Linked DNA regions of Homo sapiens. The protein of the gene in region 5 purifies or fractionates together with the protein of the main gene of each other region. This does not show direct contact. Each region holds a gene or a part of one and is shown on either strand. Other genes may lie near its edges. The genes, in order: MSI2, GPATCH8, RGPD5, THUMPD3, ESRP1, RGPD8 and PAK6.

Region 1 (4,399 bases), on a different chromosome or scaffold from region 5:
CCAAAGTTTGTGCTAAGTACAAAAATAACCTAATCATTAATTCCTATCATTTGCTTAAGCATTACAAAAAAATGCCTGAAGAAAATATTTCATTGTATTTACTTAAAAAGTTGTGTTTCCATCTTTAAAAAAGGGAGAAGAGAACAAGGAGGGAGGGAGAGAAAGAAGGAGGGAAGGAAGGAATCAATCAATCAAGTGGTATGCCCCAGACCTGAAATTCTCAAAGTACCATCACAATCACCAACTTTTTCTATACTAATGTGCAAAACCATTCCTCTCTTTACACGATTAAAAGGTTCCACTTCTGGGAGACTGTGCATAAAGAAATAAACTGAATTTGCTAAAGCCACAACCTTTTCCGACTTAGAAGCTTCAACTTTTCCCCTTTCCCTAAAAGAATGACAAATCCCGAAGATACATAAAAAGCATTTCTTCCAGTGCTACATAAGGAAGAAAAATAGTAACTAAAAAGTGTAAATGTAACATGTAAGCCATAAGCCCTTCCAATTTAACCTTAGGCTTCAAGCAACTGTGTTCTCATAGCCACACCTGGCAAGCTCAGTGAAAACTATGTTAACGACACACTTCTAAAAAAGTGAAGCCCTATCTCAATTCTTTAAGCAAGTCTTGTAGTGCCACTCCTACAAGGTTACAACATTTTCAGGACTTCTCCACCCAGGCACCAGCACTTGCACAAATAAGAAGCACTGTTGGTTTCAAGTATGCCCTGACTTATCCAACCAACCTAAAACCAAGATATCCACTGCTTGCCCTCCCAGATTTAAGGCTTTATGGGCCTAAGAAGTTGTCTTTTCCAAGAAAGGATCAGCTGTTTAGTCAAACTCTACTCCTCTGCATTAACTCCAAGTTGTAAAGCCTCAAAGAGTACCCTCCGAAAGAGTCACAAGGAAATGTTCGACTTTTCCTGATATGATATTGGAAATGCTTAAAAAACAAATAGAATCCTTGCAAAAAATACTGCAGTCGATGGAAACACGTCCTCCCACTAAGCATCAGACTTGTCCCTGCCCCCAGGTGGATGTTCAGAAGCCACCTTGGGATGGCTAACTTAGAGACGCATGGTTATCTCACAGGACTACTTGCCCAGCCTGTCCTGATACCCCGAAGGAACAGTGAATACCAGGCTTCAACAGTTCATGGCCAATGCTGTTTGAAATTTGAAATTCTTGGCAATCATCTCTGAGTGCTAAAATCCTACTGTTTATTCTCCTACTTACCTTGGGTTGCGCTCGACGAGGAAATGCAACTTTGGGGTCAATCTGGGAAAAAAAATAGAAAAGCAGGAGTCAATAAAGTACTTTAAGGAAAAAATATATGATTAATCACCTAATTATTAATCACTCATTTCTCAGGCTTATAATCCAGCTTTTAGTAACTTCTCAGGCAACTCAAAAGTTTCTTAAACTTTGATCTCAACTTTAACCATCCCTCCAACAGATCAGGTAACTAACATAGCTAGCTAGCCTTTCTGAAATGACCCACCATGCATTTCAGTGTGTGATGCTCTTAATAAACCAGATCTCATGTAATTCTTATTTAGGCAAGGGCTTCTTCTTCCAGACACTGAATATTAAATGGTATCTACATCTAATTTGCTATGCGTGGCTGGGAGAAAAGATGGGAGCATCATTATCATTGGGAAAAAAATCATAACCTGAAAATTAAATGTAAGTATTCTCTAGCAGTAGGTAATTGGATGGTATTTCTTCTCCCTGATGATAACTAAACAACACAGGAGGGAAAGGAGCTTCCAAAAATTTTTTAAATCAACAACATCCAAAAACTCCCCACAGACATCCAACACAGTGCTCTGCTTGAGTTAATTAATTCATTTTAGCAAAAGTAAAGTTACCCAGGATTAACCAAAAAGATCATCTGTTCTGTAGCTATACCTCAAAAGATAAAAAATAATTTTTTGAAGTAAAGAAAATGAAGCATGTGAGCTAAATCCACCTGGATTTTAAAAACAACAGGGAGTAAAAATCTATAAGCAACCTAAACCCAAATTAGAAAAGAAATCCCATCATGGGGAGGGCACCAAAAAAAAAAAAAAGTTACTGAATACAAGAAGTAGTCAGAATCTAGTGCAACAAGTAGGGAATTCCCCTACCCCAACCTCAATCCGAGTGGAAAAACATCCTCCAGTCCAAATCACACACTTGCAAAACGCATGATGCTCAATCAGGGTCTAGCTGTACAGCTCAGAACAGTTCTCCTGGAAGCATGTGAATCTAACAGGCTGATGTGAGGGAGGAAAAAAGTGACTGCACAGATAAAAAGAGGAGGAAAGAAATGTGAAAATATTCCCGTTGTCGGTTTTCATTGAATTTCTAAATGTCACAAATCTTTGGGTAAAAATGTAACACAGATAGTATAAACATGCTACCAGTTATTTATTTCCAGGCTTTGGCTTTCATATTAAAATGTTTTCCTTTTAAAAAGTAAATCTGAGCTTTGTTTTCACTTCTGCCATGAGAAGGAGCAGGGGAGAAAAGAGTAATGCTGTGGAGGAAAGTAGGGAGGTGGGGGTGGGGAGTGGGAAGCACGGAGGATAGTTCATTTGTTCCCTGACTTACATCACCTAGGGTCCCAGCCAGAAAGACATATGAGGATTTCCTGCTGTTATTACGGGGGCTTAAAGACCTAATAAAAGTCTGCATTGCATTCCCTACCTTTAAACATCACCTGAGAAATGAGAGATTACTTTTCAAAAACTAAAATAGACAAAAATCTCTGATCTAGAAAACTACCCTTTCATAAAGATTAACATTACTGCATCTACAGGTGTGTCCAGCACTGACTAGCGCTTGTCTACAAGAGAAATACAACAGGTGTGGATTTTCCATTCTGTTGACGTACGTAAGACAGAGGTGTCTTTTTATAAATACTCCCCAGAGGGTGTTTTTTTTAGTTGGCCGGCACACAATTGCAATCAGAAATCACCTTGTTTATGGGGTAACAGGTGTGGGGTATGTTGAGGGAGGTGCCAGGAGCTGGAAGAAGTAAGGTGCAATGAAGAAAGTGAAGTACTAAAGAAAATTTAAATCACAAAACGAAAAAGCCAATTCAGAACTCCTGGATGGTGTGTGGCCGTATCAGAGCATTATATCATGATCGAAGTTCCTCAGTGTGCAAAGTTTACACGCTGAGATCTCTGAAGGAGAGGAAGGGTCAAGTTAAGCATGGCAAATCCCAACCTTTTGCACATCCCTGTCAACTATTTTTTAAAAAACAAACAAAAAAGAAAACTACCAAAAATTAAAACATTAGTTAGTTAGGTACAGCTCTACTTACTGTATCTACAAGTCCTCTAGGAAAAGACTAGGGTACTATTTTGGATGTGAATGGCCGTTACCTAAACAAAGCTTTTAAGGTAACAGTAAACAAGATCCTCGTTTCCATGTCAATAAACCAACCGCTTCTGCCTCCTGCACTGAACGTTGAAACAAAGTCAAAAGCTAGGTTACACTAAATAATAGTGACCAAAACATGTCTATAAACAATCAGAGAGGGAAACTGCAGGCTTTGCACCTGATACAGAGGAATATGACCCACCAGCCACCACAGAAACCAAATACTGTTTCTCCCACCCAGGTAGCAAGAGGGGGTGGATGATAAATTCCCAAATTTGCCTTGAAAAGATTTTCCTCTTTAATTTCACTAGCTTTTTGAAATGGCTAGCCACGAAATCAAGGAGAGAAAAATTTTTCAGACATCTGTTATCATCCTACAAATCATTTCTGAAATTAAATTATCTAAAAGTACAAAAGGCTGGGCTGCATGCAAGCTATGACAAGTCCAGGACAATTAATAAAGCAACTAAGAGTGTAGGTGGGTTTCTTTCTTAGGAGAAGGCACGCATTCCTGATCTCTTTGATCAGAGAAAGAGGGTGAATTTGCAAAATCAATTCAAGTGCACCGAAGGTTGCCAGGTTTCTTTATTTGCTTTCCTTCTCTTCCATTCAATGTTAAAGCCAAAAGGGGCTTGAAAGATCACCTTGGTCCACTTATTTTACAGAAGAGGAAATTGAGACCCAGAGGTAGGGAATGTCTTGCTCACTTTCATAAGAGGCGGATGGAAGTAGAGCCCCATTTCTGGCCTTGTCCCACTACCCCATCACAGAGGAGTGAAGTTCCATGCAACCCAGCACTACAGCCCAATGTCATCTTAAGGCCTCTGTTTGGGGCAGATATATATTAATAAAAACCGTGGGGAAACTCTGGTAGACATAAAGGGAAGGGAGGAGAGGCAGGAAGCCCACACAGGGGCTAAATAAAACACTGCACACTCCCCCTCCCATTAAATGTATTGTTATATACAGACACTCTTTCTTCCCTTCCCCTTCTGACCTCTGCCTGGAGACTCTTCCCCCTTCTA
Region 2 (4,399 bases), on a different chromosome or scaffold from region 5:
AATTAGCTGGGCATGGTGGCAGGCACCTGTAATCCCAGCTACTCAGGAGGCTGAGGCAGGAGAATCACTTGAAACCAGAAGGTGGAGGTTGCAGTGAGCTGAGATCCACCACTGCACTCCAGCTTGGGCGAAAGAGCAAAACTCCGTCTCAAAAAAACAGAAAAGAATGTCCAAAGGTATGTAGTAAGTTGAAAAGCTGTCTTGAATACAAGTCCATTAGTGGAAGAATCTTAAATTGGTTAGGTATATTTAAATGGGGGAGACTGTTCCAAAAAAGTGTAATACCACAACCAGCTTACAAATTCTTCCAGTTCTAGTAAGAATAAAACTTGGTCAAAGATTGCCTTTTACCTGTGCACTGAAATCTTATGGTTGGTGGAAGATGAAGGCTAAAAAAAAATCTTAGTTCAACAAGTCCAGCTTAGGAGACATCATTCCAATGCTCATAAATTTACAAGTTTAACAAATACAACTATTGTACCCCCCAAAAACCTAGTAAGTTATGTTAAAGTCACCCAAGATCAAATGGCTTGAAATTCTTTAACAAGCCAGAACTGTCCTATAGGTGTAACAATTTATTTTTCCCTTCTAAACTCTCCCAGGGGGATTATTGCCATCTTCTGTATATCAGTAACTAGTTAGGTACAATTTTCTCCTCTAAAATGATGGGGTGGCGGCGGGGGAGGGGGCAAAGACTGCAAAGTGTAATTCATTTATCAGCTCTTCAACATGCAGCAACAGAGTTTTTTGTTAAAGTTAAGATAGCATCTAATTTTATTTTCCTTCTCAAAATTTATCTAACTTCCAAGGTATATTGAATAGCAAAATGACTTAATAATAGAAAATGGTAGCCAATAAAGCATGAAATCTTATGTAGGGAACTTGAAAATAACAGTCTGCTGAATAACTCTTCAAAGTTTAACGCGTTAAGAGCAGAAATGGAAACAAAGCTCCCAGTGACCCTCAGCTGAATTACAAAATTAAATAAAAACTTAGAAATCAATAAAAGGCAAAAACATTATATAAGATTTACAAAACACAATTTGTCAAATAGTGTATATGTGGGAGTGTGGGCTGGAGGTGGTGTCTATGTCAGGATTTCTGCCACTGAAAAAACAAAGTGTGTTGGATGACTGCAGATAAAGATTGGCAGACACAAGAAATCATAGACACCAAGTTTTGGGGGGTATACTCATAAAATCCAATTGTTGTAACAATAGATAGGTACCTTCTTCTGTTAGCAAGTAACTACAACTCACCTGCTTGTGTGCATGATCATAGGAGTTGATATGGTTATCAAATTCCTGATGTTTCTGATATTGCTTATCACACAGTTCACAATAAAAGTTGGCTCTGAGGTCTTCCAAGGCTTTGGCAATTGCCTTCTCTTTGTCAACATAATCCTTCAAGACCCATGAAATACAAAGAAACAAAAAATGAACTTGGTAAAACTTTAAGTGAATGTTATAGAGAAAACAGTCTATCTGAGAAGACAAAAAAGGGCTTTTCATAATATTTAGTGGTACCAGTAAAAGCTGGATGAAACACAAGTGGTACTTTGGTGGGTAATCTGTGTGTCGTCATACTAACAATTGTCTTCAAATAAACAAATGTTTAAAAGGACTAAGGATGCTCAACTGATAAGTATAATGCAAATATTCCAAAACCCCCAAAAAATCTGAAATCTGAAACACCTTTGGTCTCAAGCATTTTGGATAAGGGATATACAACCTGTATTAATAGTCTAGTTTTCAGACACGAAGGAAAAAAGCATTACCTGAGTCTGTAGCCAATGATGGAGTTAAATATTCTATGGTCATTCTACATATAAGCTGCACTGCTTGGAAAGCCAACCCACAGATATGTGTTATCTGCTGGTCTCAGCGAGATTGAAAACTGTGGGACTCTTACATGTGAGAGGAGGTTGGAGAAAAACAACAACAACAAAAAACTGTGGGACTGACTCAAAGGCAGTCCAATTTGCCTCAGCAGTTTCACTTAAAAACTAGACATCAAAAGACATCTCAAAAAGGAAAAAAGAGAAAACAATTAAAAGATACCTCAAAGCAAGTTGAGTATATTCATTTGCTAATGTCGCACAGAAGGATGAGAAAGGGACAGGAATGCTAAGTGACTACTTGCTTGACTTTTAGAGCAGGGTAGATGCATTACTTTCATAATGAGCAACTCCTTCTAGCAGACTGACCTAAAAAAGATAAGTCTTATCTCAAAGACTATATCTACAGTTTCAAAGCAGCTCTATCATCTCCCATAAGAGCTACTTAATCAGTAAACAAGAAAAGGTTATTATTTTCTGGAGTGGCAGTACTGAACTAATTTGGACAGACTTATTAAAACTGAAAAGTGAGTATGTGTAGCACATTGTTATTTTTGCCCTATCTAATCCTTCACAATAATTTTCTTTGACAGTCCCGGACAGTTTCATGTTGTTTGGCTATTAAACGACTTGTGGCTTTTTTGCCCAGGCTGGAGTACAGTGCAGTTCATGGCTCACTGCAGTCTTCACCTCCTGGGCTCAAGCAATCTTCCCACCTCGGCCTCCCAAGTATCTTGGACTATAGGCGTGTACCAGCAAACCTAGCTAACTTTTGTATTTTTTGTAGAGATGAGGTCTCACTATGCTGCCAAAGCTGGTCATGAACTCCTGGGCTCAAGTGATCCTCCCACCTTGGACTCCCAAAGTGATGACATTGCAGGTGTCAGCCCCCACACCTGGCTGCAAATTTAAGCAACAAAACTAGAGTTCCTGGTATGAATACAGCAGTATAGGAAAACAGCTTTGATTTTCTTCTTGGGTATCATAAAAACAAAATTATGAATTAAAAAAACCCCACCAACTGCATTTTCAGAAGAACTGGGCAACAGATATGATCTGGAGTATGAAAAACACACAGAAGGAAAGTTAAGCTCTTTATAGAACCTGAATGAGGGAAATGTAGTAGAAGCCAGACAAGGCAAAGCTAAGCAATATCAAAAAAGCCAAAGGTGGCAATTTCAGAAAATGGCAAAACATATATCCTGTACATAAAAGGATCCTCTGAAATGAATATACCTACATCTCTTGCACTCATCAAGAATTTCTGAGATCTGGGAAGAACAAAGGGATGAACTTGGGTTAGGGTGGATGAGGAAACATTTGCAGTACAAAGAATGCACATAGAGAAAAGCAAAAAGTTCTGCCCAATTGCGGCAGATCTAAGAAAAGGCTGAGGCCAGGTGCGGTGGCTCACGCCTGTAATCCCAGCACTTTGGGAGGCCGAGGCAGGCAGATGGCTTGAGCTCAGGAGTTCAAGACCAGCCTGGGTAACACAGTGAAACTCCGGCTCTACCAAAAATACAAAACATTAGCTGAGCATGGTGTCACTTGCCTTTGGTCCCAGCTACTTGAAAGGCTGAGGTGGGAGGACCACTTGAGCCTGGGACGCAGAGGCTGCAGTAAGCCAAGATTGCGCCACTGCACTCCAGCCTGGGTGACAGAGTGAGACCTTGTCTCAAAAAAAAAAAAAAAAAAAAAGGCTATCAGCACATGCTCACTAAAGGAAGATCCACTCAACTACACAGGACAAGAAAGGGCACATAGTGTGACAATGAAAATGGTCCCAGAACAATCAGTGACAATCAATAGTGTAGTAAAGTTATTGAATCTTAAAGACAGACTCCTTTCAGCAGCTAGGCAAAAACAATCAAGAAGGGGAAGATCAGGCCAGCCTTTGATCTCTTCAACAACACACACACACACTCTCTCTCTCTCTCTCTCTCTCTCTCTCTCTCACACTCTCTCTCAACTCCAGAAGACAGTGGTACAATAAATACTATAAGATATCTAAGGAAAGAATTAACTTAGGATTTTATATGTATCTTTCAAATATAGGGAATACATACACGTATATATGGAGTTATATGTATGTGTACATATATACACACATATACATAAGTTGATATATATGTAATTGCCTAAATTAATATTACTATTTTTTTTTTTTGAGACAGCGTCTTGCTCTATTGGCCAGACTGGAGTGCAGTAGTGCAATTACAGTTCACTGTAGCATCGACCTCCTGGGCTCAATTAATCCTCCCACCTCGGCCTTCTGAGTTGCTAGGACCACAGGGGCATGCCACTATGCCTGGCTAATTTTTGTATTTTTCGTAGAGACAGGGTTTCATCATGGTGCCCAAGGCTGGATGTGAATTATTTTTATAGGCTTATGTTTATATAAAATACATATATATATAAATAATTCAAGAAACACTGTTTGCACAACCACTTTTAAGTAAGTTAATAGGGTACAAAATTCAGAAATAATAGAAGAAAACTCAGCAAAAGAACTGGCAGACTGCTTTAAAACCATTTACTCCTATAACTAAGGTTAAAAGAAAT
Region 3 (4,399 bases), on a different chromosome or scaffold from region 5:
GTGTAGATTTCTCCAGAACAGTTACTTAGTAAACTATATTTTACTCTATAAAGAATATCAGGACCAGTCAACACACTAGCAAGAACTTCCTACCATTTTTAGTAATTACGTCTTATATACTACAGAAACCACCTTTTATCTTTTGCTTGAAAACCTTACTATCTCAAAATACAATCCCTTCTACTTTCAGACAATAGTTATCAGAAAACTCTTCTTTAAAATATCCCTAAATTGTCATCCTGTAGGTAATTTTCACTTAATGAAGCAAAAATTGTATATCAGACAGAACTTAATGTAAATCTTAGCTCTACTTAGTTTACAGCTACTAAACTGTAAAATCCCTAAAATATTAATTATTCCAGAAGGGTAAATGAGATGTCACTTATAAAGTATAACAATGCCTAATAAGACAGTAGATGCTCAGAAAGGTTTTAATACACTTTTTAAAAGAAAAATGTTAAAGGAAACACAAACACCTGAGCTTAAGGTTTGCTATTGAAAAGTAATTTAAACTCCAAATATTAGAAATGGTTATGTCTTAAGTTTTCTCCCTTTATGTTTTGTTTGTTTACCTTTAGTTTATAAATTGCAGGACTTCCTGGGAAAAGTTTTGCTGCTCTTTCGACCCAGTATTTTGCTCTTCCATCAGTAACATCATTTTTACAAAGCAATTCTGCAATCTTCAACACAAGATCTTTTTGTGTTGGGTTTAATTCCACTGAACGCTAATATCAGAAAAGAAATTAAAGATTAGTAAATAAATTGTATGTATGTATGTAGGAGTATATATACTTATACATAAAGGTTAAAAATTATCACTCCAACCCTTAAAAAATTCTACTTCTAGAGAAAACATGTTACTTTAAAGGTGTTAAAATAAAAGTGTCTTGGAATTTTCTAGAAATGAATCAAATAAAAATTATATTTGTGTCATTTGAATGCAAAAAACACAAAAGAACACCATTTCTGACCGTGTTAGACTTACAATTTATAGGTGTTAAACAATTCTAAATCTGTTCCAAGCTGTATCACATAATTGTACTATGATACCAATGCCTGTTTTATGATATTCATAAAATATATTTGACTTACTTATATAAATTTCTCTGGGCATCATGTGTTTGGCTACGCAAAGGCTATATTTGAATCTTATAACTTACCCTGTAACATTCAACGGCTTTCTCTGTGTTTTCTTCCAATTCATAAAGAAGACCCAGAAATCTGTGAGCTTTGGGATCCCTCTCTTGCACATTAATGTAAGTACATATGTATCTGTTTTTTAAAAGTAATACAAAAGTAAATTAAACTTAGAACTGTACTTTTAAATGCTAACCGAAGAATACATCTTAAACCAAAGCAACCACTAAACTCGTTTATATTGTTACTCAAAACTACCACTATTTATGCAGATAACTCAAAAGTATTCATAGAAAGAAATGGGTAATACTTAAAAACACGTACATAGAGTTGACCACATACTCATTTTACCATTAAATGTCACATTTACCAAATTTTTCTCCAGTGTTAACCACACATAAGAAATGAACATATAGATTGCTTTTTCTTCCTGATCACATTTTAATAAAGCACTAACAGTTTTGCCAATAAATTAGAAGTGATTATAATAAACATTTTTAAAGTTATCATAATGCAAAATACTAAACAGCAACAATTTCCCAAACAACAAAGGGAAATACATTTACCCTTTAAGCAAGAAAGTAATTTCTAACAGTACTATATCCAGCTAAAATCGAACAGAAGAAAAATTACTAATTACAGTACCAAATACAGGAAATTTCCATTTCTCAAATCAAGTAACAACTAAAATAAGTAAATATCCTCTAGGTTCCTTGACAGTATTACGATCAGAGAAATTAGGCCAGACCTAAACTAAGGGATTAAAGTCTCACAGTAAAAAGGTACAAGAGTTAACAGTCACAGTGCTGCTAGTTACATAATTTATGTACCACCATTTTCCTTTCTTACCAGCATTTCCATCTTCCTTTGGATGCCTTTAAAAGCCTGCCTCCCAGCTGGGAGCAGTAACACACACCTGTAGTCCCAACACTATGGGAGGCCGAGGCAGGCAGACTGCTGTGCTCAGAAGTTCAAGACTAGCCTGGGCAACATAGTGACACCTGTCTCTACCAAAAAATGCAAACCTTAGCCAGGTCCACGTGGTGGTGCGCATCTGTATCCCCAGCTACTTGGGGCGCTGAGGTGGGAAGATCGCTTGAGCCCAGAAGGCAGAGGTTACAGTGAGCAAAGATGGAGCCAGCTGCTGCACTCCAGCCGGAGCAAGAGAGACAGATACTGCCTAAAAAAAAAAAAAAAGCCTGCCTCCCTCTTAATTTCCTGCTTTAATCCACTCCCAGCCAGGAAATCAGAATCACCAAGCTTCTCATCCCTAGGATAGAGCCTTAGAGCATCACATATTGTGTCAGTTAAAGATCTTTTATACAAGCTATTCTCCTGCCTTACAATTACAGTTTAATTTTTTATTCATTGCTATTTTCCATCTGATTAAGGTATCAGATATCTAACCAAAAACAAATTAAGATATAGGCATGGTCCTCTTTTACTCCAACAGAAGACAATTTTTAGAAAAAGTGTTTTAAGCCAAACAATTTCTTGCCCTTGGTATAAAGCAGCAGCATGCAGAAAACACTAATTACAGTTTCAATCTCAATGGAATCTAGGCTGGTCCTTAGCATCAGTCTGAGTGATAAATCCCTTATTCCAGAATACACTTAGGAAGAACTACTAAGGACATATTTTTACCTATTTCAAAGAAGAAAATGAGAAAAGGCATTGATTTTAAAAAAAAGAATACATGTTACGGTTTGTACTTACTTTTTAGCAAGATCATATTCTTTAGCTTCATAATACAGCTTTGCAAAATAGAATCCTTTCATTGACTTCTAAAAAAAAATTAAAAGTTGTTTTACGTTTCATACAGAAATATTTTCCAACATTTTTTCAAAAGTAGTTAAAGCCTGACAAATGCATAATTCCATGTTTTATAATTTCCTACCACAAAACAAAAAATAGAGCTGGGTGCAGCAGCTCATGCCTGTAATCCCAGCACTTTGGGAGGCCGAAGTGGGCGGATCACCTGAGGTCAGGAGTTTGAGACCAGCCTGGCTAACATGGTGAAACCCCGTCTCTACAAAAATAGAAAAATTAGCCAGGCATGATGGCGGGTGCCTGTAATCCCAGCTACTCAGGAGGCTAAGGCACAAAAATCAGTTGAACCCAGGAGGTGGAGGTTGCAGTGAGCCAGAGGTTGCAGTCAGCTGAGATCGTGCCATTGCACTCCAGCCTGGGCGACAGAGACTCCATCTCCCAAACATCATCATCATCATCATCATCATCATCATCATCATCATCATAAATAAGCTGGGTGCAGTTGGTCACACCTTTAATTCTATTTAATTCTAGCACTTTCAGAGACCAAGGTGGGAGGCTAGCTTTGAGGCCAAGAGTTTGAAACCAGCCTGTGCAACACAACAAGATCCTGTCTCCAGGGGGAAAAAAATAGCCAGGCATAGTGGAGCATGCCTGTGTTCCTAGCTACTCAGGAGGCCAAGGAAGGAGAATCACTTGAGCCCAGGAGGTTGACACTGCCGTGAGTTATGACTGTAACACTGCACTCCAGCCTGGGTGACACAGGGAGATCCTCTCTCTAAATAATAAATACATAACATACAAAAAATAAATTCAAGAAAGCAAGACAAGCAGACAACAGAAGTTAAGAATTTTCATCAGCCTTGGAAATCTTGGAAACCCTGTGGTACCACTCTCTCACTTAACAAACAAAAGAAACCAGCTTTCTTTGGGGAGGAAAGGTATTCCAGAAATCTCTTCTCCTACCATGTGTAAGCCTCTATGGGAAAGAATAAGTAAGTACTTAGGATCTATTAAGGCACTGAGGATTCCCGGGTCCATGTACTGTTCTCTCTACAGATCAGATCAGTATTTTACAGTCAAGGAGTCAAAAAGGCAGAAATAAATATTGAATTCTTCAAGTAATAAACGAGGTCCACAGCCTGGATCCTTGGTTACATAAACTCCAAAGTCCAAAATGCTGATGCACACCAGGCTGGGTGCGGTGGCTCACATCTGTAATCCCAGCACTTTCGGAGACTGAGGCGGGTGGATCACTTGAAGCCAAGAGTTCGAGACCAGCCTGGCCAACATACAGAAACCTCCTTTCTACTAAAAATACAAAAATTAGCTGGGCATGGTGGCACACGCCTGTAATCCCCGCTGCTTGGGAGGCTGAGGCAAAGAATCGCTTGAACCCGGGAGGCAGAGGCTGCAGTGGGCCAAGATCGCACCACTGCACTCCAACCTGGGCAACAGAATGATTCCATCTCAAAAAAAAAAAAAAATGCTG
Region 4 (4,399 bases), on a different chromosome or scaffold from region 5:
GCATCAATATAAGGTTACTGGCAATGAGACATTCAGTATTCCTTTCCTTCTGAATTTAAAGCTAATCTTGATATAAAAAAATTGCTCTGTGGGACTAGGTAATAAAAAAAGGAAAAAAAAATGCTTTACTTTGAGCACTTAGTATTTCCTGGGCATGGACTTAAGCTCTTTCCATGCATTATCTCACAGAATCCTCAGTAAGGACCCTGTTAGATAATTATCATTATTCTCATTTTAAAGGTAAGCTGATGCAAGGAAACATGAAGTTACCTGCCCAGGGACACAAAACTAGTAGGTAACAGATTCAAGATTAGAGGCATTACTGTTAGTGGCTTAACTGTTATCCTCTTTATGAAGCATCCCACCCTGAAACAGGTCAGTAGGTTTCTTCCCTTCTCTTGTTCTTCTAATCTTTTCATGTGCTGGTGTGGGACTTATCGCATGTATGATAACTATTTATCTCCCTCACAAGACAGATTCTTGGGGGTTAATAGTGGGTTCTTATTGTAACATTGGTCCTGCTCTATCTCCTTGCTCCTACTCCTCAACACATGGCAATAGAATCCTTGGCAACCCTCTTGAGGGGGTAAGCACCCTGTACTCCAAGCCATTCCTGATGGTCAGGGGTGAATATCTGACCAAAACAATGTCCATCAGATCCTCTCTTCCAGGAATTTGGAACAAAGAGCTAAAAGCCCTAGGCAGTGTGGGTTGGTCGTTTGGAATTGGAAATACATAAATTTAGATGAGAAAGCATGTAGATGAGAAGAGACAAGAGTCCACAGGCTCTAAGGGGAGATAAAAATGGCTGCCTACATTTCTGGTGGTTTTCCAAGATGTGGTTCCTACCCTTCTTGAGAACCAACATTCAGTTTTTCTGTAGAATCCCCAAGATTTCTCTTTATCTTTCCAATAAACCCCTCTCTGGCACAATTATCACTTTTTTATCCTAAACTTGATTACTTAGGTTTTAAATATTTGCACCCAAAATAACACCCTCTCTGTATCCCTGGTTTCTACCATATGCCTGGCAGTAGATAATGCATATTTGTTAAATTAATGAAGACTAGAAGATTTTCCTTTATCAAATGGGCCCAATTTTCTATTATCGTCATTGAATTAATATGTTAGGAAGATAAAAGATTGGAAGAGAAGGAATACAGTCGTGTACTGCATGACAATCTTCCAATCAATGGTGGACCAAATATATGAATGCAGTAATTATAATACCATATTTTGCCCTATCCTTTCTATGTTTAGATACACAAATACCACTGCGTTACAACTGACTACAATATTCAGTACAATAACATGCTGTACAGGTTTGTAGCCTAGGAGCAATAGGAGATACCACATAGCCCAGGTGTGTAGTAGGCTACACCATCTAGATTTGTGTAGGTACACTCCATGAGGTTCGCACAATGATGAAATTGCGTGATGACACATTTTTCAGAATGTATCCCTGTCATTAAGTGATGCATGACTGGACTTAACTACCAGGACATACCAGGCACTGTATATAATAGGTATTTTGCATATGCTTCAGCATTTAATCCTCACTAATAATCCTTTAAGTCTCACATCAAATCCATTTTGCCATCTGGAAAACAGAAGCTTTAGAGAAAATAAACATTTTCAAGTGGTGGAAAGAAGCACCCAATAAAAGAGAGAAGGGCAAAGGAGAAGGAAAGATAGGTCGTGTACTCTGAAAAGCAAAAAATTCTAGGATGATTCCTGAGTTGCTGTGAGTATAAAGCTTAAAAATATAAGTAAAAGCTCTTTCTGTTCATTTACACGTTATACACATAAAAATCTCTGCTTTCATCTTTTTCACTGCACAGAAATGAAACAGCAAAATTTACTCTTATCTCCCAACACACATATCCTTGCTAAACAGAAATGTGGTAACCTCATTCAAGAGGCAGGTGAAAACTATTACTCTCATTTTAAAATCAAGAAAACCGGGCGCGGTGGCTTACACCTGTAATCCCAGCACTTTGGGAGGCCGAGGCGGGTGGATCACCTGAGGTCAGGTATTTGAGACCAGCCTCGCCAACATAGTGAAATGTCGTCTCTATTAAAAAAATACAAAAATTATCTGGGCGTGGTGGCAGGCACCTGTAATCCCAGCTATTCGGCTGAGACAGGAGAATCGCTTGAACCCGGGAGGCAGAGGTTACAGTGAGCTGAGATCTCGCCACTGCAGTCCAGTCTGGGCGACAGAGTGAGACTTTGTCTCAAAAAAAGAAATAAAGAAAACTGAGCCACCTATTAAGCAGTATTTTCAGATCACAAGGAGTCAATATTGGATAGAAGGGAAAGAAATAGATCATTAGCTTTCCATTCTATTCTTTATCCACTCTATTCCAACACAGTACCTCAAACACACATACACACAAATCAGTATTTTGAAGGGAACATTCAAACCAAGGTGCCACTTTAAGCTGGATGGCAAACTCATTTTCTTACCTGAGCATCCCATAGGCAAGAGTTGATCTAAGAGTTGTAGGTCCAAAATGTGTTATATTTCTTCGGTGGAGACTCTCTTCAGTCAATGCAATGCCCACAATGACTTCATTATCATGGATGTTCAAAAGAACCTATAGCAAAGTGGAACAAGACAAAATAGTTTTAGGATTGTTCAAACTGCGCTTAGTAATAAGACTTTTCTGACCTGGGCCGGTTCACCCCTCCTTAGGCAACCTGTTGGTCCCCTACTCCTGGGAGGTCACCATATTGATGCCAAACTTAGTGCAGACACCTGATTGGCATAGCGCACCACAGCCCAGAACTGTCTAAAAAGTTAAGACATTTAAAAAATACATATTAAAAAACCTCTAAGCCTTCAAAATATGTTTGTGTTATAAAAATTGGGGTGAAATCTGGTTGTAGCCAATAAACATAGTGAATTAAAAGAAAATAATAGATATTAAAATGAACGAAAAAAACTATATACTATATGATTTCATTTATATGAAGTTCAAAAATTGGCAAAACGAATTTTTGGTGGTAGCAGTCAGATTAGTGATTGCCTTGAGTGGGTACTGACTGGGAAAGGGCAAGGGGAGCCCGAGGTACTGGAAATAGTTTGTATCTCTATCTGGATGCTGTTTACACATCGTGTATATAAGTAAAAACTTACTGAAAACTTAAGATTTGTGTACTTAAGGGGTGCAAAGTGTATCTCAACAAAAAAGTTTTAAAAATTGGTAAAGTCTCAAATAAAAAGTCTTATTACACTGAGTGCAGTGGCACAGGCCCACAGTCCCAGCTACTCGGGAGGCTGAGGTGGGAGGACAGCCTGAGCCTGGGAGGTCAAGGCTTTAGTGAGCCATGATTGCACCACTGCACTCCAGTCTGGGTGATACAGCGAGACCCTGTCTCAAAAGTGAACTAAACTAAACCAAAATGTTCCCCAATCTTTCACTGAAAGACTTCCTGAGCTTAACCACAGCAGAAGCACAGCTGATACTCATACAGCACTTCCTAATGCAAAGCACTATTCTACACATTTTACATACATGGCCTCATCTCATATTCACATCCCCTAAGCTAGGTATTATTCCCTTTATAAATGAGGATACTGAGGCACAAAGACAGCTCCTCAGGAATTCCCTTTTTGAGACAGGGTCTCACTCTGTCGCCCAGGATTGAGTGCAGTGGCATGATCACAGATCACTGTGGCCTGGACTTCCTGGGCTCAAGCAATCTCTTACTTCAGCCTCCCAAGTACCTGGGACTATAGGTGTCTGTCATCATACTCAGCTAATTTTTTTTTTATTTTTTGTAGAGACAGGGTCTCCCTATGTCGCCTAGGCTGGTCTAGAACTCCTGGCCTGAAACAATCCTCCAATCTTGACCTCCCAAAGTGCTGGGATTACAGGTGTGTGTCACCACACCCAGCCTCCTCTGGGATTTAAACCAATGCAGCACGGCTCCAGAAACTCCTCTGAATCACCTTGCTAACTTTTAGACATCACTGTTCTGGTTAACCTATTCATTTTATTTTTTAAAATATTTATTTTATTTTTAGTGGAGACAGGGTCTCACTATTTTGCCCAGGCTGGTCTCAAATTCTTGGGCTCAAGCGATCTGCCTGCCAAGGCCTCCCAAAGTACTGGAATTACAGGTGTGAGCCACGTATTCATTTGCAAGGCAGTGTATGAGGAAAAAAAGGAATGGGGAATTAGACTCCTGATTTGACATGCACAAAAAAGTTAGAATCAGTGACTTGCCCCAGATTCAAGTGTCCCAAAAGCAACGGAAATTGACTCTTTGGTAAATATATCAGCTGCTAGAGATGTTTTAAGGTGTCAGAGACTTAAATACTTTAGTTCCTATGGTTCACATGTCAATCACCCAGATAAAAGAGGATTAAGACCAAGGAAAGTAAATATAC
Region 5 (4,399 bases):
CCAGGCTGGTGTCAGCACTCCTGGTCTCAACCCATCCTCCCTCCTCAGCCTCCCAAAGTGCTGGTATTACAGACATAAGCCACCATGTCCAGCCAGAAGTTGTCTTTTTCTAAATTAAGATAGCTTATTAGATTTTTCCTCCACTGCCTTCTAATTTTTCAGTAGGTACTCTGGTTCTCTATTTTGTGGAAGACCAACTATCCACATTAAAAAGTTTAATATATACTTAAGAACTGAATTGTGTCCTCCACCTCCCCCAAAGTCCTATGTTGAAGCCCAACCCCCAATGTAACTATCTGGAGAGAGGGTCTTTAGAAGTTAAGTTTAAATGATGGTCAAAGGGTGGAGGGGTCTAATTAGATAGGGCAGTGACCTTGTAAGAAGATAACTCCTCCTGCTATCCCCCCAGAAAAGGTGGCTGGCTACCTGCAAGCCAGGAAGAGCCATCACCAGAACCTGACCATGCTGACACCCTGATCTTGGACATCCCAGCCTCCAGAACTGTGAGAAAGTAAATTTCTTTTGTTTAAGCTCCGTGGTCTATGGTATTTGTTATGGAAGCTTGAGCTGTCTAATACAACATTCAACCCAACAGAAAAACCAGTGAGAATTTTTCTGGTGTACTAACCTTTTTAACAAAATTCTTGTAAGAATTCTGTCACAATGAGCTTATTCCACCCTCTTCCCAACACTACTGGTCATGCTAAGCCAAAATTCCAGCTAACTGACTCCAAGAAGAAGGCAAATGAAAACGGATTTGACCTGTTTACAAGTAGTTATGAAATATATGCGAGCAAACTTCAATCAGGAAAAAAAATCGTGAAGTAACACAAAAACCAGGTTTTAATTCCTGAAAATGAATGAGAAAGTTTGGGAATAAGCATCTACAACCCACAAGCTACTGAAGTTAACTTAGTTTTAACTTCATGATGACTCTCACAGTGGCTTTTGGGAAGCCACTCAAGGTAACAATTACTCAACTTTACATCTGATATATTAGCACACGCCTGCTTATTAGTTAGCATTTGAAAGACTTAATGAATGTAAGATGACGGGTCATTCATGATTATAGATTTGTAATTATAAAATTACTTTTACAATATATCATGCATCAAATATATTATTTTGGTAACTAAAGAATGTGGGGGACAATCCAGACCCCATTTTATCATCTCCAAAGATGGCTTATTATAATCAGCATAATCTTGTATTTGAAAAACTCAGGGGAGGCTAAAAGCGGGACCAGTGAACAGCAGTTTGTAAAGGGGATATATCCACCAATTAAAAAAATTATTGACTTCATTCCAAAGAAGCCAAAATAAACCCTAAAATCACAGTAACCAAGAAAAAGTGGCCTTAGAATCTGCACTAAAGTCTTCATGTTCTTTCTGCAGCACACACACACATTACACAGCTGAAACTGAATCCTATTCTACATGTGATCACCCCACCAAAAAATCCATCTCCAAATCCGTCCAACCATCTGATTAATTATAACCACTTTCAAAGATGTCTATAATTGTATTTTAGTTTCTCAGCAGAGTAAACAAATTTTGGATAGGCCAATTTTATCCATATGCTGACAAAATTTAAAATGTTTGAAAGTTTCTTGAATTACCTTTTCTGGAACTATCTTTTCAAATGATTCTTGAGTAATGATTTAAAGGATACACTCTGTCATTGTGGCAACGTCCAGTTTGTCAATATCAGGTGAACCAGGGCAACATTTCTTGAATTCTTTTCGAAGATCAAAAAAGGAATAGAAGCATTCAGGTAATAGTACATTCTGAGGAAGGACAAGGTAGATAATGTTAACTAGGTGAATTTGGTTCAATGTTTCTCTCACAATTAGGAACCTAAAAATTGAATATAAGCATATTTTACAATGGAAAAATTTAAAATTTAATGTAAAAGTAGATTTATTTTTAAAAGTTGGTCCTGTTTCTATATTAGATCCTATGTACAAGTCTCATGAAAAAAATTCCTCTTGTTTTAAGGCAGTGGATTACAATGTTTGTGCTCCAGTATGCATTCCATTCAAAACAATTCTGAAGCTGTGATACATTTGTGCTGTTATACTTCATATTTTCTGGCTGTTAATACTAATTTTTTCCAGCCATAACCATTTTAGAACATCTGTATTTTCAGGCAGCACTAGCAGCCCTTTCAGTTTTCACACAGGTGTGGGATTAGATTGTAAAACTGGGTAGTTCTAACTATTGGGTTCTAATAATGCATATTTTCAGTAATAAGTGAGATTAGAATAGTAAATTCCTGATTAACTGAAAAGGCTTATTTCTGTGCCAAATAATAGTCCCACATTAGTCTTCTTGAACAATATTGTAGCTGTACCTGTGAACTCAAATTAGACTTCAAACACAAACAAAAACAAACTCACAAATCCCAAAGGCAAAGGAGAAATGGTTACCTGCTGTTCTTAGCTATTAGGACCACTACCGTGGCTACGAAGCAAAGCTCAACTGTCTGGACAAATATTACACTATTGTTTCCTTTGTTTTTTTTTTTCTTAACAAAATAACCCAGCATTGGATAACTTTTAAAGATAATCCTTTTAAAAACTCAATTCAGATTTTTCTTAAAATTTTGAAATTGTGTTAATTTGCTGGGAATTTTTACCCATTTTTACATTAGAACATCAAGGAAATTAAGACTTTTAAATGTTAAATGTTCATGCAAAATATCTCCTCTCCAAGTTCCTTCTATTGGATTTTACTAGATGTGACCTGTTCATGCTGTATTTTGAAATCAGTATTGCTGCATCATGGTCACAGCTTTTAAAAAAGTTAACAACCAAAAGAACCATGAAACCTCCCTATTACCTACAAAAATGCTCATTTAAAAGCTATTTGTAAGGACAATAACTCACATGTTCAACAATAATCAGTTTAAATTGTTGTGTCCATTTAAAATACTGAGTATTTTATTTAGTGGTTATAACAATGTTGATGTTCTATTAAATAATGTAGGCTAAAAGGCTTACGCCGTATGAATGCTCTTTGTAAATAATGCTTGTCTACAGAAATCTAGAAGAATATATCCAAATACATTCATGTTAGAGAAAAACATTTTAATATATTGAGTGGCAGGATTATTTCATGTTTTGCCATTTTCCCTTTTCTTTAACGAATATACAGAATTACTTTCACTATAACATTAATTGTTTTAGTTTCTGTATTTAATCAAAATTCTAATAGCTGTGGCTGAGGAAAAAGTCTTAATTTTTCTCCAGATGTTTTCCTACACCCAAAGCACTCCACCTAAATAATGAAAACAGCTATTTTCCTCTGGCCCAACAGGGAAAAGATTAAGTCTTGTCCTTCCGTCATGTGAGTTTGGGAGTAAAAAAGTAATCCTTACATATTACTATTTCTGGTAAGGATGTAGCGACTAGTCTAGCATTTAATTTTTTAAAAAAATTCTTCCCCTTTTGTCAAATAATTACTAAGACTCGTATAAAAGGAATGATTTTCTGAAGACATAACAACTTGAGTTACTCCTTCAAACTTTTTGAATTGTCATAATATATTAAACGAAATAAAATCTGCACTTACTTGCCTGGGTCGTCATTTGTCAGTCTACATCTTTCATTGCAAGCCTTGCCTTATACAGGTACCTAAATATATTCTACTTCCATCTTTTCAAGCTCGGTGCCTGCCTACCACAATAAAAAGTTACAGCTCAAACTAATTTAAGTTGTTAAGAGACAGTGTATTAACAATGATTGGCTACACTGGGTGGGTTGTCTCTGCTGTTCCTTTTCCCACAGCCCCTCAGTATTTATCCCAGGGAGAGAAATCACATTTTACCTATAGTAAGACTGTATTTCTCTCACTCTGTAATCCTCTCTCTGTCAGAAAAATGAGCAAAGGTAAAAGATGAGGCTGACCCTTTTGTTTTGATGCAAGAATGTTTTGAACATTGACTTAAAATCAGACAAAGTGAAGAGTGCTACGATTGTGGTTTCACTAGATATAAGGTTATCTTATTTAAGTAGCCTTTTTAATGAAATGATTAGAAATACAACTTTAAATGTTTAATTCTTTTTTCCTTCCTTTCTAGGATATAGCATTTCCAACACAAATGAGGATATTATGACATACTAAAGAATAGTTCTTTCCTCTCTTTGTAGTTATTTTAAATGTCAAAAATTCACACTCTGTATTAGCTTCGGAAAAGGGAAGTGTCATGCATCTTGAAAATTGGACGTAAACAAAGAGACTATTTTAAGTCACCAAAGAGTATCTTTGTATATACATAACACCAAATTTACCATTTTAATAATTTTTAAGAGTATGGTTCAGTAAAACATTAAGTACATTAACATATTTTGCAACCATAAACACCATCCATTTCCAGAGCTTTTTCATCTTCCCAAACT
Region 6 (4,399 bases), on a different chromosome or scaffold from region 5:
ATTAACCTTTCTGACGTTCACCTCCAGCCAAGACAATTCCCTGCTCAAAAAAACAAGTACCTACAAACTAAACTTCTTTCCCCAACTTTCACAGTCCTCTAACATTACACTGACCATCCTTTCAGTGTGTTCTTTCTACACTGCAACCTGGACTACCTGACATTCCAAATCACCTCCCCAAATTAGCTTTTCACTTAACCCTGTGTTCAAACAAAATACAACTAATTCTCAAGGTGATGTTCAAATGCTCCACCAGGAAAGGGAAAAAAGTAGTAGCTGCAGAGAATTTATTATGTATATAATAATACGTCCAATGCACTTAAACTCTTAATTTTTACACCATCTACACTGTTAGGTAAACAATATTAGCTCCTATCTTAAAATGAGAGAAACGGATGCAGGGAATAACAGCTGGAATTTGAAACACATCTGACTCCAAAAATGTTTTCTTAACACAACTCTGCTGCCTTGACAAGATGGCAGATAGATCCAATGCCGTCTAGTGTAGCTATGTGGCTACCTGATCTCTGCTGAAGAAAACTAAATGACAGCACCATACCCAACACCCTAGAACCTACAAAATGTCCCCTTACAAAACAGACACTTAACAGGAAATTCTTTTTCCAAAGAAATTGTAGTGGTATCAGAAAACAGGTAAATTTTGAAAAGTTTCAAACTTCTCTGTATCAGCCCAGGAATCCGATCAGTTCTAACAAGTGAGGTCAGGGACAGATCTAGCATGTCTGCTTTCTGTTTCTACAAGTGTTTCAATTAAAAATTTCCCAGAAAGACCTAACCATGAGGTCCAAAACTATCTCAATTTTCAAGCTAAATAAAATTTCCCCCATTCATCCATCTACAGTGCCTAGTCCAGATGCTACACATACACATCCAAGAAATAAGAAACTAGTGGAATCACCTAGAAAACTTTATAGTCACTGTTGGTATCCGCACCAGAGCTTTGAATTTGCAATCACTGCTGTAACTGTAATTTTTAACATTCAGTGTGATGAGAACTGGCTTCAATAATTCTCTCATTTTAAAGATAAGAAGCCAAACAGTCACAAAGGAAGTGACTGGCCCAAGATCATTAATTAATGGCAGAGTCAGTACTAGTACCAAGCTTTTCAAGCTCATGGACTAGTGCTCCACTATACTTCCACAGAATACAATGTTGGGAGCCTGAAACCTGTATGTTAAGTCAAAATTGTATGTAATTGTCATAGGCCACGACTACACAGAATTAACATTCAAAATTTTTGTGCAAATTCAAAAATGTCTTCCCCACCAAATAGTATTCTCTTAATTTGCAAATGCTGCTGATCACACTGTAATAATCGCCACACATCAGCATATCCTTGATGTAACTTTAGCAGTATGAGTAATTTAGTTCTTGCTTGATAAACATGAAAGAACCTACTTTTATTTCCAATTCCAAAAAAGTCAAGCTCCTTTGAACCCTATTGTTAAAATAAGATATATATACATAACTATTTCCTTACATAATTAAGTCAAATTCATATGGAAGTATTAAAATATAGTAAGACTTTTTGAAGCTCAGACCACTTTTCGATTCCTAGCTATACATTTGAAACACATGTAATCCACAGCTAATCTGGGAATGAACTCATAGACCAGAGTATGATTAGTACATTGTAGCACTTCAATCACTCGGGAACCTTCTCTGTGTCAGGAACTCTTATATTTTAAATAAAACAGTTTCTACCTTTGAAGGTCTCAAATTTTGTGGAAGATGAGGAGAGAGACACATAAAGTACTTTCAAAAATATGGTAAAGGGCTGGGTGCGGTGGTTTACACCTGTAATCCCAGCACTTTGGGAGGCCAAGGTGGGCAGATCACCTGAGGTCAGAAGTTCAAAACCAGCCTGGCCAACATGGTGAAACTCTGTGTCTACTAAAAATACAAAAATTAGCTGGGCCTGGTGGCGGGTGCCTGTAATCCCAGCTACTCGGGAGGCTGAGGCAGGAGAGTCACTTGAACCTGGGAGGTGGAGGTTGCAGTGAGCCAAGATCACACCATTGCACTCCAGACTGGGCAACAGAGTGAGACTCCATCTCAAAACAAAACAAAACAAAATATGGTAAAGGGTCAAGACCGAGGTATGTAGGCTGGGCACAGTGGCTCACACCTGCAATCCCAGCACTTTGGGAGGCTGAAGCAGGAGGATTGTTTGAGCCAGGAGTTCAAGGCCACCCTGGGCAACATGGCAAAATCCCATCTCTACAAAAAATACAACAATTAGCTGGGCCTGGTGGCATGTGACTGTCTGTAGTCCTGGCTTCGTGGCAGGCTGAGCCAAGAGGCTCTCTTGAGCTAGGAGGTTGAAGCCGCAGTAAGCTGTGATCATACCACTGTACTCCAGCCTGCACAACAGAACAAGACCCTTGTCTTAAAAAAAAAAAAAAAAGACCAAAATGTCCCCTTGCCATACTATTTGGATGGCAAGGGGACATTCTGACCAGCTTCAGAAAAAAAGTGAGAGAGTAGCCAGGGAAGGAATCTTGGAATAAAAAGTACAGCTAGAGAAATTAAGTGACTTACCTTAATGGCCTCTACTTGTTGGCAAATCATATTCAGTAAAGAATTCCGATCTTCTGTCCATCGAGGTGGTGTTTCGGGAGAATACTGAAAAAAAAAATAAAAATAACAAAACAGCATTTAAAACACTTAGAACAGAAACAATTTCACAATGAAATGATTCCATTCTTTCCTGTTTACCTTGTAACTTTTACTTGGTGATAGTGAATATTTGGTAGGAGACGGTGTAGAATGTTTTATTTCTGAATCTGCATTTCGCAAAGAACCATTTTTATAGAGAGGACCTCCTTCACTATAGTCTTCGAGTTCCTGCATGACTGAATTAAGCATCTGTTTTACAGACTCCAGGGGCACAGGCAACTAAAAATAAAAGACATTAATTAAGGGCTTTCATTTGCAAAAAATTCCAAAAGTAAAAACTCTAAAATGATATATTTTATCTTATTTACATTTTTGTCACTTTAATAAGCACTTTACACTTTAAATAATAATACACGTGAAAGTGTTTTTTAATTATCTTTTTTCTTTGTTTTTCTGTTGTTTTGTATTATTATTTTTATTTTTTTGTCTTTATTCTATTTTTTTCTTCAGGAACACAGAAAAGTGTTGTACAGTCTAACATCTTCTGATTCTAAAGTCCATGCTCTTTCTATTACTTCTGTTAACCATGATAATTGTAGAGGAATGTTAACTTGGAAAGCTTTTCCAAGTGAACAAAATAAGTTACTGATGTTTTCTAACTGATTTTCAATGGTGACAGAAATACAGATGCTACAATACACCAGACAACATAAATCCTAATAAAAGAGTAGTAACACAAATTAATCAACAAAACACTCAGAAGACTGAACATAATTTAACATCATCATGACAATCTCAAACAGCTGACAGCAAGAAAACAAGGGCGTTCATAATGGCTGATGACGATGAGAAGAAATGCTCTTAAGTTGTCAGCAACAACTTTCAATTTCAGCAAAGTTCATTAAGAATTAGTCCTGAGGTTATAATATTTGTTTTGATTACACTGCTAAGATAACAAAATCAATGTCTTATCTTAGAAATCTTTTCTAATTCCCCAAGAAGTACTTTTTAAGAGCATATACCTAGATTCCCAAGTTTAAAAAGACACACCAAACCTAAGACAAAGCAAGCAAATCTAAGCATTTAGACACACGCATCCCTTCTGTGCATTAATAACAACATATTACTGAGTATTTTTGAAATTACCAAAATATAAGACCAACGCAAAAACACTGACCAGTGGGTTATCAGTAAGAACGTACATACAACAACCTGCTACTTACTTTCTTGACCACTGAAAGATTTGAATCACCGTCATCTATAATCTTTATTAGGTAGTCCCTGGTCTTTGTCAGATAATTTCTGCATTCTTCTTGTTCTTCAGGAGAAAGGGCATCATTTTCAATGTCTTCTGCCTTCCTGTGAAAAATCTATACAAATAGTGCTTTCATGAAATCATTAGCTTTTTAAAACAAAAAACTTTCAGCTTGGCCACGCATGGTGGCTCATGCCTGTAATCCCAGCAACTCGGGAGCTGAGGCACAAGAATCGCTTGAGCCTGGGAAGCAGAGGTTGCAGTGAGCCAAGATTGTGCCACTGCACTCTAGCCTGGCCAACAGAGAAACCCCGTCTTTTAAAAAAAATAATAAATAAATAAATACAACTTTTAGCTCAAGTACTGCATCTACTTACCAGTGCAAGATTCCAATAAGAAACAACACTTTTTATAGATTCAAAAGCAGTCACAGCATCTTCTATATTTCCATTTACTGCATCCAATATAGCAAAAGTTATGTGTGCGTCTTCTTCATATTCAAC
Region 7 (4,399 bases), on a different chromosome or scaffold from region 5:
TGCCCAGCCTCCCAATGTGTCAGGCCAGGCCGCCTCTCCCAAGCCATCAAGTTACCCAGTGGCTGCTGCCTGCTCCTGCATGGGCCCCTTGGTAGCACGGGGGTGGGGGTTCAGCCTGGGTAGCAAGAGTGCTGGGCAGGCAGCTGGGGATCCCTGGGCTGGAAACTGACTCTGCCATTAGTTAGCTGTGTGGCCTCAGGACCCACTTTCCTTCTCTGGACCTCTGTTTCCCGCTCTAAAATTATGGGGGCTGGACGAAACATCCTCCGGGGACTCCCTTTGGCTTGAATGTGCTACAGCAATCTGAGATGGCCAGCTCTTTCCTGGGGCAGCCTTTTCCTCCTCAGAGCTCCTCTTTGCTGATCTGAGACTGTGCTCTGGTGGTGCAGGAGGCTGTGGCATAACTGGTCCCCTCGCTCCCTCCACCCTCTGTGCTTTCTTGCACAATTCCATAAGCTGAAAGAAAGAAAATGGAGGCTAGAGCCTCTCCAGGCCAGGAAGCTGAGCCACAGAACCAGTCCTCCCGGTTTTAAAGTTTTAACTCTGCTGCTGCTGCTGCAGCCTTTAGGAGTCCTGGTCACCAGGCAGGCAGGCAGGCAGCAGGAGGTCTTGGGCAAGGTGACTGGTTTGTTGCTATCTGCACTGAGTTGAGTAGGCTGGTCCCCGCTGCACTGGGATCAGAGATCAAAATACAGCACCAGCTGAACTGAGCTTTCTGAACCTGCTTCCCTGGACACCCAGAGGATCCCTCACCAGGTCCTTGACAGCCTGAAGGACACAGCTCTGCTTCCAGCCCCTTAGCAAGAGGCCCAAAGAGCTGAGTGCATGGAGGCTGTGGGCAGACCAGAGCACAAGAGATTGTTGCCTAGGCAGAGAGACACTGGGATTGGCTGACCGAGGCAGCACTTTTGGGGAATAGGTTGCCACGGAGAATCCACAGGTGTCAAAAAAAGTCATCACTGGCCCTATGTGAATACTTGGGTCTCTGCCCTGCCTGATGTGTCGTGATGAGGTTTTGTAGGAAATGCTGGCCAGCAGAGGTGTCCCTTTGCTGGGGCTGAGGCAGTTGCGGCCTCTCATGTAGTTATGAGGGAACCTGTTTTTTCACATGTGAGTTCCCCCAGCCCAAGAAAGCCTGTCATGCTCTGGGGTTGCCTTGTTTTTCTTAGGTGAATAAGCTTTAGGATTACCTTTCCTAAATTCATAGAACAGATAATCCTTTGTAGAAAAAGCAGGCTGGGTGTGGTGGCTCACATCTGTAATCCCAGCACTTTGGGAGGCTGAGGTCGGCGGATCACCTGAGGTCAGGAGTTCGAGACTAGCCTGGCCAACATAGTGAAACCCCATCTCTACTAAAAATACAAAAATCAGCCGGGCATGGTGGTGGGTGCTTGTAATCCCACCTACTTGGGAGGCTGAGGCAGGAGAATCGCTTGAACCAGGGAGGCGGAGGTTGCAGAGAGCCAAGATCGTGCCACTGCACTCCAGCCTGGGCAACAAGAGCGAAACTCTGTCTCAAAAAAAAAAATAAAAAGAAAAAAAGAGAAAACAAAAGTCTCTGAGATGGAACCTCACGATTACTGGCCTTTTTTTTTTTTTTTTGAGACAGAGTCTTGCTCTGTGGCCAGGCTGGAGTGCAGTGGCACGATCCCAGCTCACTACAACCTCCGCCTCCTGGGTTCAAGCGATTCCCCTGCCTCAGCCTCCCGGGTAGCTGGGACTACAGGCACGCGCCACCACGTCCAGCTAATTTTTTGTATTTTTTAGTAGAGACGGGGTTCACCATGTTGGCCAGGATGGTCTGGATCTCTTGATCTTGTGATCTGCCTACCTCAGCCTCCCAAAGTGCTGGGATTACAGGCGTGAGCCACTGCACCTTGCCCACGATTACTAGGCATTTCTAAGCTACTTGCCAGAGTGATCCAGGAGCCTGCCGTGGCCTTGTCTGGCCCCTCTGCCTGCCACATCACCAAGTGTATGCTTTAGATGGGGCTCAGCAGAACACAGTTCCTCATGCAGTTAGGACCAGCATGTGAAAAAAGCTTCCAGTCCCCAAAAGGAGTAGGGCCAGGGCCACAGCCCGGCTCTCGATCCCTTCACTAGGGGCAGCCCACTTCAAGTCCTCAAGACCTCCAAGTCTAGACCCCAGAAAGAGGAGTCTCAAGTTATTCCTTAGAAAGCCTCAGTGGACAAACAATATGCTATTTGGGAAAAAAATAGACCTGGCATTATTGTTTCTTCCCAGCTTTCCTGGGCATTCTGAGAGCTTTTGTTTCTCCTCAGAGGAGGGTTCTTTCAAAGTCACCTCCTCCGTGAAGCCTTTCCTGATTCCCCCGAACAAGGTATGGTCTCTCCTGGCACTTTGTTCCTCTGACACCAGTTATCATCACGGTGATAATAGTTATCTCTTGCTGAACATGTACGTATGTGCCAGTCATGCCATTCAGAGCATTCACTTATTATCTTATTTAATCCTCTCAACAACCCTAACTCATAGGTACTATAATTATCTCTGTTGGACAGGAGAGGAAATTGAGACCCAGAGACATGAAGTAACTTGCCCGAGTCACCAGGAAGAGGCAGCACCGGGCCTGAGGCTCATGCTGCTGACTTCATGTTAACCAACCACCATCCTGCCTCTTCCCGCCCTGGTCTATCTCCCCGAGCCTTCACCTCCTCCTGCAACTGCAGATAGAAGCTGCTTCTTCCTTTGTTTGTCATTCTCAACTTATCTTTTTTGTCCATCTTTATAAAGTTCTATGTTAAGAACCGTTGCCCAGTATTGGTGTAAATTTATAAATTATCTGGGCTGGATGGGTCATGGCTGCCAACTTCAGCGATGAGTTGGACCCAGAGTTGGCAAAAGGACGAAGCCACCTGGGGGCTGATGGTGGCTTTGTGGCTCCGCTTGTTTCTGGCGCGGTTGGCCCCACGCTCAGCTCAGCTTTCCTTTCCACTGCTCTGCTGCAGGGCTATGAGCATCCCCAGGGCAAGAGCTCTGTCCTGCTTTGTCCACCCCCTCTTCCTGCCACCAGTGCTTGCACCTAGTAGTCAGGCCATGGCTGTCATCTGCTTGGCAGCCTGTGCGCCAGAACAAGGTGCTGCCTGGACCCCACACCCTCCCAGGAAGAGACACGGTCCCCTTTATCTCACATCTCACTCTTCTCGCTTTAGCCCTTCCTGGCCCCTAGGGCTGAGCTCTGGTGGGGTGGAGGGCACCTCCTCAGAAGGGGACAACTTCCCAGGCCCAGGCAGACTGCTCGCCCTGGGCAGGAGGGCCAGCCTTGGCTTCAGCAAGTTCAGAACTCATTCTGCCCTCAGAAGCTTCCATTTGCAATGCTCCTCCCCAACCTGCTGGCTAGTCCACCTCTTTCTACCAAGGAGGCTCCCAGAAATAAGCTCTCTCCTTGAGGCCCGGTAGGTGCAGGCGGCCAGATGCCTCCTGATGAGCTTTACTGGTGTCCTTCCTGCTGCTCAGGTCTCAGGCACTGCTTCCGCAGCCTGGGCCTTCCTGCTCAGGGCGACGAGCGCATCTTACGGGAAGGACTTTCTGCTTCAGTCCACAGGACAGCCTCCCATGAGTCCTTCCTGCCTTCTGCACCCAGGACACTGTGTGCGGTGGGCATCTCTGGGCCATTTGGGTGAGGAATTCAATCTTTCAGTGTCTTAGCCTCTTCCCTGCCCAGTCACCTACGCAGAGGGCCTCTCCCACAGAAGCGGGCTGGCATAAGAAGGCCAGCTGTCTGGAGTCCTCCCTGAGCCCTCAGGACCCCAGGCAGCCTTTTCCTTTCCTGCTCAGCCTGCCCTGGCCCCTACTCTCTGCTCCCTCCTGGCCCAACCTGCTGCCCGCTGCTGGCCTGCTGTCTACCTAGTGCTCGACAGCCTCCGCCCCTCTGACCCCAACTGGGCAGCAGCCCCTGCTCAGCTCTGCATGCATGGAAGACTCCTAGGCACAGAGTCACCTTTTGTGAGGCAGCATGAGATACCCCCACAGCTGGGTCATTCTCCTCATCCAGGAGCCAGGTGTGGGAATTCACTGGCATGAGAGACACTTATGGGTTCCTCCTGACTCTGAGCACATGTGCTCCTCCAGGGCAGGGGACTTTTTGGTCATCCTTAGGAGTTGTGCACAGAGCGGGCTTTCCTTGGCTGGAGACCCCACCCACTGCACCCTCCCTGTGTCTGGCAAGTCCGGGAGGGCCCAGAGCACTCACAAAGCATCAGTTTGTCCTCGGGGCACTGGAGAGGCCGTGCAGTCCCCACACTCCCCCTCTCAGGTGCACAGAGCTTCCATCCAAATCAGCTGCTCCCAGAAGGGCTTGCCTCTGGTGCCGACCCTTCCCTGACCAGGCGCTCTGTCACTAGGGCTCCCAGGTGCCACCTCCAAGCCTGGGCCAGG

Evidence for each region.
Region 1: the proteins of ESRP1 (region 5) and MSI2 purify together in Homo sapiens (co-immunoprecipitation; one large-scale study listed by IntAct). This does not show direct contact.
Region 2: the proteins of ESRP1 (region 5) and GPATCH8 purify together in Homo sapiens (affinity purification with mass spectrometry; 2 studies listed by BioGRID and IntAct, with this or other methods). This does not show direct contact.
Region 3: the proteins of ESRP1 (region 5) and RGPD5 purify together in Homo sapiens (affinity purification with mass spectrometry, with the first as the bait; 2 studies listed by BioGRID). This does not show direct contact.
Region 4: the proteins of ESRP1 (region 5) and THUMPD3 purify together in Homo sapiens (affinity purification with mass spectrometry; 2 studies listed by BioGRID and IntAct, with this or other methods). This does not show direct contact.
Region 6: the proteins of ESRP1 (region 5) and RGPD8 purify together in Homo sapiens (co-immunoprecipitation; 3 studies listed by BioGRID and IntAct, with this or other methods). This does not show direct contact.
Region 7: the proteins of ESRP1 (region 5) and PAK6 purify together in Homo sapiens (affinity purification with mass spectrometry, with the first as the bait; one large-scale study listed by BioGRID). This does not show direct contact.

Annotation. Positions count from the first base shown.
Region 1 is NC_000017.11:57,259,032-57,263,430, reverse strand, and holds part of MSI2 (RNA-binding protein Musashi homolog 2), read right to left. Parts: intron 1,281-4,399; coding exon 1,239-1,280; intron 1-1,238.
Region 2 is NC_000017.11:44,423,090-44,427,488, forward strand, and holds part of GPATCH8 (G patch domain-containing protein 8), read right to left. Parts: intron 1,404-4,399; coding exon 1,260-1,403; intron 1-1,259.
Region 3 is NC_000002.12:109,800,305-109,804,703, reverse strand, and holds part of RGPD5 (RANBP2-like and GRIP domain-containing protein 5/6), read right to left. Parts: intron 2,922-4,399; coding exon 2,854-2,921; intron 1,273-2,853; coding exon 1,161-1,272; intron 726-1,160; coding exon 573-725; intron 1-572.
Region 4 is NC_000003.12:9,372,717-9,377,115, reverse strand, and holds part of THUMPD3 (tRNA (guanine(6)-N(2))-methyltransferase THUMP3), read right to left. Parts: intron 2,601-4,399; coding exon 2,470-2,600; intron 1-2,469. UniProt on the Homo sapiens protein: Catalytic subunit of the THUMPD3-TRM112 methyltransferase complex, that specifically mediates the S-adenosyl-L-methionine-dependent N(2)-methylation of guanosine nucleotide at position 6 (m2G6) in tRNAs.
Region 5 is NC_000008.11:94,643,555-94,647,953, reverse strand, and holds part of ESRP1 (epithelial splicing regulatory protein 1), read right to left. Parts: intron 1,787-4,399; coding exon 1,672-1,786; intron 1-1,671. UniProt on the Homo sapiens protein: mRNA splicing factor that regulates the formation of epithelial cell-specific isoforms. Specifically regulates the expression of FGFR2-IIIb, an epithelial cell-specific isoform of FGFR2.
Region 6 is NC_000002.12:112,395,359-112,399,757, forward strand, and holds part of RGPD8 (RANBP2-like and GRIP domain-containing protein 8), read right to left. Parts: coding exon 4,274-4,399; intron 4,012-4,273; coding exon 3,865-4,011; intron 2,921-3,864; coding exon 2,741-2,920; intron 2,648-2,740; coding exon 2,564-2,647; intron 1-2,563.
Region 7 is NC_000015.10:40,241,533-40,245,931, reverse strand, and holds part of PAK6 (serine/threonine-protein kinase PAK 6), read right to left. Parts: intron 1-4,399. UniProt on the Homo sapiens protein: Serine/threonine protein kinase that plays a role in the regulation of gene transcription. The kinase activity is induced by various effectors including AR or MAP2K6/MAPKK6.